Linked DNA regions of Homo sapiens: region 2 is linked to region 1. Evidence: fine-mapped expression QTL. Tissue or cell type: whole blood. Region 1 holds a variant in brackets; the other region holds the start of a gene. All regions are shown on one strand. Distances are from middle to middle.

Evidence for each region. PIP is the estimated chance that this variant, and not a neighbour inherited with it, causes the effect.
Region 2: SLC39A11 starts here. The variant in region 1 is fine-mapped to the expression of SLC39A11 in whole blood (TOPMed, PIP 0.99).

Annotation. Positions count from the first base shown.
Region 1 is chr17:72,722,324-72,729,766 of GRCh38, forward strand. The region is part of intron 7 of SLC39A11 (solute carrier family 39 member 11); the gene reads right to left. Among named protein-coding and RNA genes, the nearest start is that of LINC00511, 86 kb to the left of the region's middle. RefSeq lists enhancers at 3,218-3,287, 5,367-5,661 and a silencer at 3,338-3,407. The variant C/A (reference allele first, on the strand shown) is at 3,320.
Region 2 is chr17:73,089,715-73,097,157 of GRCh38, forward strand. It overlaps SLC39A11 (solute carrier family 39 member 11), which reads right to left and starts at 2,974. Exons shown (of 10, transcript NM_139177.4): 1 at 2,897-2,974. RefSeq lists enhancers at 1-431, 432-932 and a silencer at 1,903-2,134.

The DNA.
Region 1 (7,443 bases):
GTCCAATTTCAAGAAACTAGATTTTCAACAGATGAAAACAGTAGCAGAATAAATTGCAGAGTCCAGATCATCTTGTCGCATTGCCCAATGGAGTTCAAACGGATTAGTTTGTATCAAGAGCATAATGACAAACCAGGTATTATTATGCAAGGTTTTCATATTGTTTTACAGAATTTGAACTGGGGTGGGGTGGGGGAGGGAAAAAGTAAGGTCTTTGGAAGGTCTTTGGTCTTTCTGTTTGGAAGACAGAAAGGACTTTGTTTTATCCTGAGCTCCTGATTTCATGAACTAATTTCTGGTGGTAAATAACACTTTTTTTTTTCTTTTTTGAGACAGAGTCTCGCTCTGTTGCCCAGGCTGGAGTACAATGGCACGATCTCAGCTCACTGCAACCTCCGCCTCCCGGGTTCAAGCGATTCTCCTGCCTCAGCCTCCCGAGTAGCTGGGATTACAGGTGCCTGCCACCAAGCCTGGCTAATTTTTGTATTTTTTAGTAGAGACAGGGTTTTACTGTGTTTGCCAAGCCGGTCTGTATCTCCTGACCTCAAGTGATCCACCAGCCTCGACCTCCCAAAGTGCTGGGATTACAGGCATGAGCCACTGCACCTGGCTGCACTTTCTAGAAGGGTGATCTCTCATAAAATAATTCACTGACCATGGCGGTCTACGATTGCATCTTTCCTTCAATGCCTTCACTTTGAAAAATATAAAGGGTGGCCGTCGTTTGTCAGTCTTTACATATTTGGGGGACGTCTTCATTGTCCAACAAAGCCCAACAGTCTCATAGCCATGGATACAATCTGCCTTTCTCACATGATGCACGTAGAAACTGAGGCACATACAGTAAGGGCCGAGTGCTCAGTCAGGTTGTCAGGTGCTTGTCAGGTGAAGTCCCAGATGCTTCATAGAGAGATGTCACCAGGAGGACAGAGTGCTGAAATGAGCACGTGTCTTAAAATCCCTCCCAGGATTTTCTTTGTCTTTGTAGGAGTGTAAGAGTGTGTGTGTGTGTGTGTGTGTGTGTGTGTGTTTGCAGCCTAGCTGTCAGGAGGTCTGGATTAGAGAATTTCTCCATCCTTCAAAGGAAAACCATCTTTCAGAGTAAGTAGTAGCAGGAAGAGATGGATGACAGTAACTGGATTTGTAATACCAGTGAGGCCAACCCCAAACACACACAACCATCACCCTACATGTGGATTGTCTGTGCTAGGAGAAGAAAGTACAGGCGTGAAGAGTGCTAACTTCAGAACACCCCAAAATCAACTAGATTTTTCTTTTTGCCATTTTTGAGGTGATACATTTACTTTTCGAATGACTTCCGTTGAATAATGTTATTTGTTCCATCAGTCCTGGGGAGTGAAGAAAGTGGGTCGTAAAAGTCTGCCAGACACAGACGAAGCCAGACCAAGATGGAACCTTGTGGGCAATCTCAGGTTAGCAGGTAATCAGATCATTCACCCATCTGTCCATCTGTTTATCCAATTCAACCCAGAGATTCACAAGCACCAGGCTCCATGATGGCATATTTTGCAGGCAAATGGCTATTAAGTTCTTCATTCTCCTCCACGTGTTCTGGAAAATCACCAGGTTTCCAGGTAACGACGGGATTGTATTTGTCAGCACAGAACTGGGGATGTGGAGGACAAAGTCTCCAAGGAGTAGTTCTTCTTCCCTGGTAGGATTTCTCAGTCAAAGAAAAATCTTAGACGTGCAACTATTGGGCGATCAGTGGTGCTAACACGGGAACACACATCTTACTGGCAAAACACTGTCCCTTTTATTTTTTTTTTTCTGTAAAACGTTGCTCTTATTGGGAGCTTGAAAAGCATTATCATAAAAAGCCATGGGAAGGGAGAAGGGGAGAGGAAAGAGAGGGACAGAGGGGGATAAGAATTGCCCAGGTTTGGACAAGGACTCTGGAGATGAGGCCCAAGATGATTCATTTCTCCCTGTTCGCTTCCCAGCCCTCAATCCCATCTGGCTCCTTTCATTTGAGTTTTCTATTGCAATGCACAAAACAGATAATTTTCCAAAAGCTTGCTCAAAAGCTTCCAGGTGGTCCAAGAATGGGAGGGGCACTTCTTGCAGTTCAAATGGGACAAGAGAAAAAACATCAAGAAAGCGGTGGGGGGGAGTGAGCTTCAGAGGGGAAGCTGAGACAATGAGGAAAGCAGACCTTTTGAGACATCCTGGATGTTCCCTCCACCCTCTGAAATGGAAACATGACCAGCTACAGACAGATCAGCTCTTAGAGGGGAGGAAAGAGCCCCAGGGTTCAGGAACCAGGAGCTCTGACTTGAGTCATCCCTGATGACTTCCTTTTCCACTCTGAGACTTCAGTTTCTTCACTTATAACATTAGAGACTTGGGCTAGATCAGGGATTTTCTGCCAAGTGCAGAGGGGAACTTTCATGGAAAGGGTGGTATCTATTCCATCCAGAGTGTTCGCTTAGGAACTTGTTCCAAAAGCTCAACTGCTAAAAAAAAAAAAAATACTTAAGAGGCAAGATGATCTTTCAAAGTCATGTCCAGCCCACCAGTCCTACAAATTCAAGCCTGTTTTCCCAGTTGCAGTTGATGAAATAACTATTCTAAGTTCTCTCTCTCCAAAAAGATGAATCCTGTGCTCAGTGAATCTCTGTGGATTGAAGGGATGGATGGATGGACAGACTGATGAATGACTTGATGGCAAATTACATAGGATGGTGAGAACCTGTTTGATCCTGGTCTGGCTTTGCCCATGCATCCGGTGGACTTCCTTGGCCTGGCCCACTTTCTTCACTTCCCAGAACGCATGCAATAAATAACATTATGTTTTTAAGTCACTAGAAAAGTAAATGTCACCCTCTCCCCTCCAAATGGCAAAAAGAAAAACTGAACTGATTTTTGGGTGTCTGGAAGTGAGGACTTTTCGCACCTCTATGCTCCCCTGCTAGGGTAGACCATCAAAAGCTTGGAGTAGCTTCTGACACTTTAATTGGCCCATTTCACATTTCTACCCCTCTACGTAGGGTCACATAAAAGCTATACTTTTATTCCCAACATGGGAAAATAAGACAATAACGAGCTTTATAAATGCTTAATTAAATGGGGGGTGAAAAATCAGGGTATAACAGCCAGAATATAAGGATGTTACTATTTTGAAAAATATCCAAAGCAAAGTTGGACATGTCCAAAGTTACATGTAACTTACATATATGGTCCTTAGCCTTCTGCAGATACACCTTCTGTACAAGCCGAACATAGATTTGGATAGCGACACACAGTCACCTTTCCTGGTCAAACTTTTTCCTTCTGGTACTGTGTCTAGCAACCTATG[C/A]TACCAAGCTACCGCGTGGTGGCGCCGTCTGTCCACCGCTGCCAGCCGGCACTTTCAAATTCCACTGTCTCTTTGTAAGGTGAGGCTGTGTAGTGTGGCAGGATGAGCCAGGAAAACTGAAGAGAAGGAGCTGCCAATAGATCACTCTAGAATTCCAGACAGGGTAGTGTGATAGGTTCAAGAGAAGAGCTTGCCTGCATAAAATAAAATTGAGAGCACAATGTGCGATTGCAGATAAAGAATAGAACAGGATTGTGCCGAAGTGACTCAAGGGTGGGAGGGGCATTTTTCTGCTGTGAAAGGGTGGGGACAGTGGGATCAAGATGTCAAAGTATTTTCTCCACAAGTACCTTAGTGTCCTCAGGCTGGGTCTCCAATTCTCAGGCTAAAAGCCACTCTCCAGGGAGACCAGGCTGGGAATGCTGAGACCCAAGTTGCTAGGCAGGGAGGAGGTTAAGATCAGCAACTTTGAGGAAGTAAGGGTCTCCCTAGGATGCTCCACGAGTCTGGGAGACTGAGTGCTGCCTGGGGCAGGTCTAGGCATTGCAAGAGCAGCTGCATGGAGGCTTGGAGGGAGCCAGTGAAGACAGCTTGCTTGTTCAAAGATGTTAGAGTGAACTATAATTAAAATGTTTCCATGTGAGTTCTCCGAGACTCCTCCCCGCCACAACAATGAAGTCTCCTTTGTAACTTCTCTACAGGTAACCTGCAAGCATGCTTTCAATAATCTACAGGATGCACACCTGGAGTCCCAGCTACTTGGGAGGCTGAGGAGGGAGGATTATTTGAGCCCAGGAGGTCAAGGCTGCAGCAAGCTATGATTGTGCCACTGCACTGCGGCCTGAGCAACAGAACAAGATCCTGTCTACACACACACACAAACACACACACACACAATCTACTGGAGCAAAAGTAGAGGGGCTGCTTGGACAGGTAGACACACATGTAACGTATCTTACACATACAGACATGCTCATCTACTAGCTAATGTTGATGAATGACCAGGAAAATATGTCAAAATATGCCACTTTTCTTTCTAAATAAAGGGTTGCTTTGTTAACTAATGGCTGCTGTCTTAAATAATTGTTAATATATCAACATATATATGTATAAGCCAGGGGAAAGGATTTATCTGACTTACGATCTTTCCTCTTTGATCAGAGAGGCAAACATATATCTTAAAATTGGTTTTGATGCCTCCATGTGTAATTTAATGGGCTATACTACATCCAAATGTAGACTAATCAACCATGCCTCCTTTACCAAGTGTCTGGGTGTTGATTAGCAGTAGCTGGTCCGGTCATATCTTGGGGATGTGTTTTGTGGACTATCCATGGCACACTAAAGTTCGCAGCCAGCCTCCTCTGCTGTGCACAGCCTGCTCTGGGATGGCCGCTGCACCTGTAGGTCAAGGCAGGTCCACAGACTACAAACGTCTCTTGACGCGTGCTTAGTCAAAGCTTAAAACAGGAAGTGGTATGTGAAGCTGAGTGTTTAAGCATAAACAGTCTTACTCTCCCTGCTGGTTTGAATGATGCCTGCCACTGAGTGAAGTGGGAGCTGAGGGCATGTCTCCTCTCCAGAGAACATGTTCTTTGAAGTGACGATACAGCAGAAAGGAAAACCGCTTAAGCATGCAATTCCCCAAGCACATACGGTCTGAAGAATTCCTCTGTGATTGAAACAGAAAGAAACTGCTATGGGACCAGAACAGAAAGAAGCAAGCTGGGGCCAGGCACAGTGGCTCACGCCTGTAATCCCAGCACTTTGGGAGGCCGAGGCGGGTGGATCACGAGGTCAGGAGATGGAGACCATCCTGGCTAACACGGTGAAACCCATCTCTACTAAAAACACAAAAAATCAGCCAGGCGTGGTGGCGGGTGCCTGTACTCCCAGCTACTCGGGAGGCAGAGGCAGGAGAATGGTGTGAGCTCAGGAGGTGGAGGTTGCAGTGAGCTGAGATCGTGCCACTGCACTCCAGCCTGGGTGAAAGAGTGAGACTCCGTCTCAAAAAAAAAAAAAAAAAAAAAGAAAGAAGCAAGCTGTGTTTCCCTTGAACTACAGGCCTCCCTCTGCTGGCTGAGAGTCTTCCTAATTCAGGAGACAATGACCTCTGAATGAACACCTTGGTGCAAGCTGACCTGGCCAGGTAGGGAGGTGGACAGATGGGAAGGAGCTGGGGAGGGCTCCAGGAAGGTGAGGAAGTAACGGCATCTGTACACCAGATGGCAGCAGCCACACACACATGATAGGCGAGGTGCCTGCCTGTCTTCTTCCCAGGTCAGAAACCCCTGAAGTGGGAACTGAAGACAGTGCCTTCTTGGAATAGTTCCTTTTCTTGTGGGTGGCTATAATGCCACAGGCGACGTTTATATGAAGCCTCCTGCTTCAACAGACAGGGCACAAGCAAGAGGTCATAAAAAAGACAGTTGGCCTCAGAGTATTTAATGATGAATATGGGCTAAAAACAGGGATTGTGTCCACTAAAGGAGGGGTCTAACGCTTTCTGAAAAGGGTCAGATAGCCAGGTGTGGTGGCTCACGCCTGTAATCCCAGCACTTTGGGAGGCTGAGGCAGGCAGATCACTTGAGCTTAGGAGTTGGAGGCCAGCCTGGGCAAACTCAATCTCTACAAAAAATACAACAATTAGCTGGGTGTGGTGGTATGTGCCTGTAGCCCCAGCTGCTTGGGAGGGATGCTGAGGTGGGAGGATCGCTTGAGCCCAGGGGGTCGAGGGTGCAGTGAGCCATGATTGCACCACTGCACTACAGCCTGAGTGACAGAGTGAGACCCTGTCAAAAAGAAAGGGAAAGGGAAAGGAAAGGAACAAAGGAACAGGGAGGTCAGATAGTAAATATTTTCAGCTTTGCAGATAGTAAGTATTTCCAGCTTTTCAGCCTTAAGATTTCTCTGGCCATTATGCAGATCAGCCACTGTAGCACATATGGAGCCAAAGACAATATGTAAACAAATGGGTGCGCGTATGCTCCAATAAAGCCTCATTTCCAGAAATAGGTGTTGGGCCAAATTTGGCCCGCAGACCATAGTTTGCCAACCCCTCCACTAAAGGAGTCATAAACTATCTGGCTCAGTTAGCTTGGTGCACGTGTACCCTGGGCCTGTACTGGGTAACGCTTTCCCCAATCTGTGTAAATGGAGTCCTTCTTCCCTCTCAGTTCACTCCACGGCACGAGATTAACCTACGTCTCCTTGTCACTTGGACTCAAATTCTCCCTTCTCCCTTCCACGCGACAACAAAATCAGCTGGCAAACGCTGTCTGTGGGTTCTGTACGCAACAGCTCTTCCTGGGATCAGTCCTCATTCTCATGGTCATCACAACATCCAGTATCTTCTTCATTGCTGCTAAAACACACAGCAGTGGGGTGGGCTGTAAATATTCTTTTTCAGTTGGTGCATTCTTCACACTGGTTTATCTCCCCACCTGCTCTCCCAGATTATTTTATCTTAGCCAGATGCATGTTTGAGTTACCTCTTGGGTGATGTCTCTTGCCTGCATCGGAACCCACCATAGTTGCCAACTTTTTGCTGAGTAATGCACCTGTTTCTTTCCTGCCTCAATCCAATCCTTTATTTATTTAGTTTTATTTTTTTTGAGGCACAGTCTCTCTATTGCCCAGGATGGAGTGCAGTGGCACGATCACGGCTTACTGCAGCCTCAACCTCCCTAGGCTCAGGTGGTCCTCCCACCTCAGGATTCAGAGTACCTGGGACTACAGGTGCATGCCACCCCACCTGGCTATTTATATATATATATATATATATATATATATATATATATATATATATATATATATTTTTTTTTTTTTTTTTTTTTGTAGAGACAGGGTTTCATCATGTTGCCCAGGCTGGTCTTGAACTCCTGGGCTCAAGCAACCCACCTATGTCAGCCTCCCAACATGCTGGGATTACAGGCATGAGCCACTGCAACCAGCCAATCCAATCCTTTAGACATACCTTCTCTAAAGCACCAGAAAATTCTATCTCAGTCATATCGGTTTGTCCACCAGCCCTGAAAAAACCTTGGCACCTACCTTGGCATTTGCTCAGAGTACTACCTGCCCTTATCATCCCCTTACCAAAGCAGACCACCCCTATGCTCCTG
Region 2 (7,443 bases), 370 kb after region 1:
TGCACAGGACAGTCAGCAAGGACAAGCAAAAGGACCCAGGAATGGAATGTCCCCTGGTCAACTCAGCACCCTGCTGCTGAAGCTGAAGTTACACCACCGCCCACCAAGGAAAGGAAGGGAAGTACCACTCCCTCTCATTTCAGTCCAGAGAACCTCCTCCAGACTTTAACATGCTTAAAATTCTGGATCTGAGATGACAATCAGATCTCTCCCTGTGGAAAGTTACAAGGCAGAGAAACCCATTTGTTGAAAAGCCCTGTGTTCTGGTACACAAACACTGGGCTCAGGGCCTCATATCAAAGCCTCATTCATCTCCCTGATGGTCTGCCAGCACCCAGAGGGCTGGCTGGACACAACCACACTGGGCTCAGCCCTGCCAGTTCCCGGTGCTCTGTGAGGAGCCAGCAGCCCTGAGCCTGCAGATCAAGAGCTGAAGACGCTGCCTCGATTGACCCTGGAAGGAAACCATGGCAGAGTGTGGACGCAGCCCTTATGCCAAGCGGCTCAGCAACACACCCAGGCTCAAACCTAGGAAGGGTATAGGTCCAGGTGAGCCCAGGTGAGCCCTGGCTCAGCCCCTGTGCCAGAAACTCTGAGATAAATAGCATCTATGGAATCAGACTCTAGTTCCCGCACTCTAAACGAACTGCACCAACTGTGAAAACTGTGACCACGCCAATTAAAGAAAAAAAAAATCATTTTCAAAAAACTACTACCCTTTACATCCGTCATCTTGCTAAGCCACCCTAAAAAGAGGGGTTGGTCTTTGTTTTTAAACCAAGCCATCTGGACCATTACACCAATCATCTATTCCGAGTTGCTGTGGACAAAATTTCAAACAGCATTTACAAAGAACAGCACAAAGGGATCATCCTCTTAGTACTTATCATCCAAGACAGGGCATAACAAAAACACCTTTCTTTCCTGTATTTGAATGTGCCTCTTGACAGCTACAGAAGAGAGCAAACAATTTACATTTGCCAACAGGCCAAAGTCAATGTGGATCTTGTGGGCTGGTGAACAGAACAGAGGGAGCTCGTGGGTGTTCCTGGTGGTTAGTGGGATAGGGAAACACCCGTCTAAGCCTGTCCCCATGTATATCTGAGCACCCTCCTGAGTAAGAAAAAGGGACACAGAGGGAAGACCGAGGCCACCATCCTTTCCATCCCAACAGGAGCAGCATTGATCACGGGCAATGCAAGCCCAGTGCCCCTCGGAGAAGTTTCTTCTCTATTTGCTGTTTTAAATCCTCGCTACAAGGGTGGTCAGAGAACCAGCAGCACTGGTCCGGCTTGGGAGCTAGTTAGGAATGCAGAAACTCAGGTCTCACCCCAGACTTTCTGAATCAGGGTCTGCATTTTGTGGAATTCCATGGGGGATTCTTATGCACATTAAACTGTGGAAAGCAAAAGATTAAAACTGGTAAAACTTGGCCAGGCGCAGTGGCTCATGCCTGTAATCCCAGCACCTTGGGAGGCCAAGACGGGCAGATCACCTGAGGTCAGGAGTTCGAGACCAGCCTGGCCAACACGGTGAAACCCCATCTCTACTAAAAACACAAAAATTACTTGGGCGTCGTGGTGTGTGCCTGTAGTCCCAGTGCCTGTAGTCCCAGCTACTCGGGAGGCTGAGGCAGGAGTAATCGCTTGAACCCGGGAGGCGGAGGTTGCAGTGAGCCGAGATCGCGCCACTGCACTCCAGTCCGGGTGACAGAGCAAGGCTCTGTCTCAAAAAAAAATAAAAATAAATAAATAAATAAAACTGGTAAAACTTCTACAATACCAAGAGCTTAGAAAATGAGTTCTCCTGCCCCATGTGGGATTGGCAAGAGCAAAGAAGAGTCCCAAAAGAACAGAAAGTTTTCTGCAGAGTCTCAAGAGAAGAAAAAGTTTCTGGCAGAGTCCCAAGAGAACAAGAAGTTTTCTCTAACCGGCAGACCAGTAACAACTTTAGGACACAGCATCTCCATCACAGCTTACACAATGGGGCTCAGAATTCCTCACGATGGGGATATTAATTCCATCAACCCTGATTCGTTAGCAGCAGGGAGAATCATTCTCTGACCGTTCCAACTTTTAACATGCCAACAGCCTGTAGACTTGTACACACCTGCCACAGCAGCACATGGGCATTCCCGGCTGATTGATACAGGTTTGTTTTCTTTATTTCCTTTCTCCCCCTTTTAAACCTGTTGTTCCGCTTCCAAGAGTCAGTTCAAGAGGCTGGTGAAGTTGCAGAAGTGGAAACAGCACTAGGGCTGCTGGGCCTTAGTGGAGCTGCACACACATGCCCTAACTCCACGAGGGGGAATCCAGCAGAAGGATTCAGGTCTGGGCGGAGAGGACTGTGGAAAAGTTCTCTAATGCCTCGCTACTCAAAGCGTGGTCCGCGGACCACCCAACCTGGGAATTAGTTAGAAATGCACACTGTCACGCCCCACCCAGACCTGCTGCAAGTTAACCAGATTCCCAGTCAAGTTCCAGAGGTCCAGCTAACAGCCAGAGCAAGTGGGAGGGGCCTGGGAGCAGCTGGATTTGTAGCTGCCTCTGCTCCCAGGAATCCCGGGTACCCCCACACACCGCCTAGGAAGGGACGAACGAAGAGGATTTGGGTTAGGACTGTAAAAGGAAGGCATGTCATTGCCTTCCAGATCACCCTGGAGAGGGACATAGCCGGGGTCCGGGGACTTCCTTCCCACCGCCCCTCACCCTCCCACCCCGCCCCGACACCTGCCAAAGCCTCCAATTTCTCCTCCAAACCCCTCCTCTCTCCAGGCGTACCCCCTTCCAAGCTCCAGGTGGCTGCCCTTCCAAGTCCCACACTCTTGTCCTGATGGCCTCCGACCCCGGGCCTCGAGCCCAACCAAAGGCACCGAAGGAGAGAAAAGCCAACTCACTAGGGTGCCCTCTCCAGCCCCCACTGCACTTCCATCAGCCCCCGCTGCCACTCTCTCGCCGGCTCCACTCCCGCAGTCACTTCCTGCTTCCCTCCCGCACACGTGGCCCTCCCGCCTCCGGGCCCCGCCCCCTTGGCCGCAACTGGCAACTCCCGCCTGAAGAATAGATTCTCTGGTTCACAGCCGTCTGCAGGCTCAGGAACAGATCTGGGCGGGCAGAACAGAGCCCTGAGGCCAAGAGCCCAGCAGTCTGCGAGTGACTGCAGCCCTAAGGGAAGCTACAAACACCCAAGGAAAGAGCCCTTTGTAACACCCCTGATGTTACTTATGCTTCTACACCTTTGGCAGCCAGGTCCATGCCACTGGGTGCGCAGCAGAGCAGGATGTGCTGTGTGTGTGTTGCGGGAGAGGCTGGGGGCGGGTAATGTGATGGCATCGGCATCATTCTCCAGTCAATGACCCTCAAAAGAATCACTGGAGGGGGTCAAACACAAAATGCCAGCACCCCCAGAGGCTCTGGTTCCGTCATTCTGGGTGGGGCTGACATTTTGGGATTTTTTTGTTTTTGCTTTTGTTTTTTTGAGATGGAGTCTCGCTCTTTCGCCCAGGCTGGAGTGCCGTGGCCCAATCTCGGGTGATTGCAGCCTCTGCCTCCTATGTTCAAGCGATTCTCCTGCTTCAGCCTCCCGAGTAGCTGGGATCACAGGTGCATGCTGCCAAGCCCCGCTAATTTTTGTTTTTTTTTTTTTTTTTTTTTTTTTTTAGTAGGGACGGGGTTTCACCACGTTGCCCAGGCTGGCCTCGAACCCCTGACCTCAAATGATCCACTCGTGTGGGCCTCCCAAAGTGCTGGATTATAGGCATGAGCCACCGCGCCTGGCCTGAGATCTTGTTTTGAGCTAGGAGTTGCTGATGCTGCTGTCCTGGGACCACCCTTTGAAAAGCACTGCCCTAGGTCAAAGGCTTTGATCTGCAGGATTTCTGTGAAAAGACCAGAGGATAGGATTGACTAGATTTAGCCAAAAACAAAACAAAATAAATAAATAGATAGAAACAAGATGCCTGGGCTGGGCGCTGTGGCTCACGCCTATAATCCCAGCACTTTGGGAGGCCGAGGCGGGCAGATCACAACGTCTGGAGATCGAGACCATCCTGGCTAATACGGTGAAACCCCGTCTCTACTAAAAATACAAAAAATTAGCTGGGCGTGGTGGCAGGCGCCTGTAGTCCCAGCTACTCGGGAGTCTGAGGCAGGAGAATGGCGTGAACCCGAGAGGCCGAGCTTGCAGTGAGCCAAGATCACGCCACTGCACTCCAGCCTGGGCAACAGAGCAAAACTCCATCTCAAAAAAAAAAAAAAAAGCCTGATTAAATTTGAATTTCAGAAAAATAACGTCATTTATTACTATAAATATGCCCCGGGCAATGTGTGGGACATACTTATGTTACAGGCATATTTGTTGTTGATCTGAAACTGAAACCCAGCTGAGTGTCCTGTGTTTTATTTGACAACATATCAGAGCGTGACCTGAGCAGAAAAGCTACCCGTGGTCTCGATGGCCATAGCCCAAAGGGTCCAATAACAGGCCTCTTTCTTCCAGTGGAACTAGGTTGTTCACACTGACGGTCGCACCATATACCAAGCACTCCATGGGGAGGAGAAGACAGCCTGGCCACTGGAGGGTGGTCTTTGCCCTTAAAAGACCCCCAACTTGGAAGAGTCAAATCAGCCATTGCAATTCCACATAAGAGAGTATGTACAGGCACACAGAGACACAATACCCATGTGGCACGGCCCATCAACTCATCTTCCAAAATGTCATACCTCTTCCTGCACGCTGCAATAGCCATAAAATGACACAATATCTTAGACTCACTTCAAAATATGATGGAAGAGAAAAGTGGATGGAGTAGAGATTAAACAAAATTGGCCATGAATTAACCATTCTTAGGCTGGGCATGGTGGTTCACACCTGTAATCCCAGCACTTTGGGAGGACAAGGTGGGCAGATTGTTTGAGCCCAAGAGTTTGAGACCGGCCTGGGCAAAAAAGCAAGATCTCGTCGCTACAAAAAGTTTTTAAAAAGTAGCTGGACATGGTGGCAGATGGTAGCTGGGCCTGTAGTCCCAGCTACTAGGGAGGCTGAGTGGGGAGGATCACTTGAGCCCAGGAGTTTGAGGCTGCAGTGAGCCGTAATGGTGCCACTGCACTCCAGTGAAAGACCCTGTCTCTTAAAAATAAAAAATTAACCATTGTTGAACCTGGGGAACGGGCACGTAGAGGTTCATTAAATGTTTCTGTTTCTACTTTTGTGGATGCTTAAATTCTTTTCTTTTTTTTTGAGACGGAGTCTCGCCCTGTCACCCAGGCTGGAGTGCAGTGGTGCAATCTCGGCTCGCTGCACCCTCCACCTCCCAGGTTCAAGTGATTCTCCTGCCTCAGCTGGCCTCCCAATTAGCTGGGACTACAGGTGCGTGCCACCACACCCAGCTAATTTTTTGTATTTTTAGTAGAGACGGGGTTTTGCCATGTTGGCCAGGCTGGTCTCAACCTCCTGAGCTCAAGCAATCCACCTGCCTCAGCCTCCCAAAATGCTAGGATTACAGGAGTGAGACACTGCGCCCAGCCGCTTAAATTCTTTATAATGAAAAATAAACAGAAATGTTTACAACGATCCACAAAGTGCCTCTCCTGCCCAATCCTTTCTCTCCTTTCTCACTGCTGCTGTGAGGATTCAACCTGCCCATCCCTCATCTAGGTCATGGAGTCACCTCCTTCCACTCCACCCTGTCTAGTCTGTTCCATGTAGCACCGCCAAGATCAGCCTGCCTAAAGCACAGCACATCACACTCTCCTGCTCAAAAAGCTCCGATAGCTCCCCAGTGCCTTTGGCATAAAGTTCAAATGCTTCAGCCTGGAATTTGAGTTTTGCTGTGGTATGATTCCAACTAAACGTTCTCAAGTCTGTCTCCCAGGGTTCTCCTCCCTGTGCCCTCTGGCCAAGCCAGGCTGGACAGCTCGCTGTCCTCCACACAGCCTTCCCTCCCTGCCACTCCTATCTCCCTTATACCATTTCTGCTGAACTGCCCTTCGCCTCCCAAATCTAAGCCCCACCATCCTGCAAGACCCAGGTTTAATGCATTCTCCTTGGGCACCCCATCTGACCTCATCTCCCACCTGTCCCAGCCCTGGTTACAAATCGAGTCTCTATCCTCTAAGGTCCCATAGAACTCCATCTGGATTCTAAGGCACTTGCCTCCTTCTGTCTTATACTGTAGGATCTAACTTCACTGCTATATTCGGCATACAGACCCAGGATTAGAATCAAGCTCCTTACTGAGCTTCTTCCCCTCATCCCAGCCAGGATAGCACCTCATATTATAGCATGTCCTCAAGAGATGCTTGCATGCAATGCATAGGTAAACTTGATGTGGGAAAGGAAAAGTGGGGAAGCAACTAACATTTGTTGAATGCCCAACCTGGGCCACTTTATCTTTATATCCTCTTCTTATGTAAAACTCACAACTCTGAGGGGAAGGTATCATTATCCCCATTCTACAGATAAGGAAATTGAGGCTCAGGAAAGCTCTGGAGTGACCCAAGGTCCATGGGGCAGTGTGGGACACCAAGCCCAGCTGACTCCTGAGATGGTGCCCTTCCTGCATGGGGCATTCAGGGCTCACAGGATGAGACCCAGAGCCACCTTGATCAGCATTTCTGCATCTCACTTTCTTTAAACCACACCAAGCCCATAAGCGGGAGGGGTGCTAACCCCCAGGAGACAAATCTTACCATTTCCCCATCTTTCTCAATAAACTCCCACACATATGCCCACTCCGCAAACATGCAAACTGCCCCCTTTCACATACTTCCTTACAGTCAAAAGGGCCAGAGTATTGGCCAGAAGAAAATGTTTCCTGGGCCAGGTGCGGTGGCTCACGTCTGTAATCCCAAAACTTCGGGAGGCTGAGGTGGGTGGATCACGTGAGGTCAGGAGTTCGAGATCAGCCTGGCCAACATGGTGAAACCCCATCTCTACTAAAAATACAAAAATAAGCTGGCCATGGTGGCAGGCGCCTGTAAGCCTAGCTACTCGGGATGCTGAGGCAGGAGAATCGCTTGAACCTGGGAGACGGAGGTCGCAGTGAGCCGAGATCATGCCATTGTGCTCCAGCCTAGACGACAAGAGCAAAACTCCATCTCAAAAAAAGAAGAAAGAAGAAAATGTTTCCTGAAAGCTAAATACACTGGCTCTGACCTCCACCCCACCCACAGTCCATTCCTATTCTCTCCCATGGGACCTAAGGTGGCCTGACGCCCCCAGGGCAAAGGGATGGGATATGCAGGAACAGACCAGAACAGTGGCTCCAGAAGCAGTGGCAGGGGGATTTGCAGGCAGTGAAGGCTGCTTCCCATGCGTCACAGGGCCCTAAGACTGATGCCAACCATCCGCAAAGGAACTGCAAGGCAACAAGATGGTGGGCGGCCCTTTCCAGAGGAGTCACTGTGGTTTGATCTGGCTAAATGCCCTGCTGGCACCTCCTCC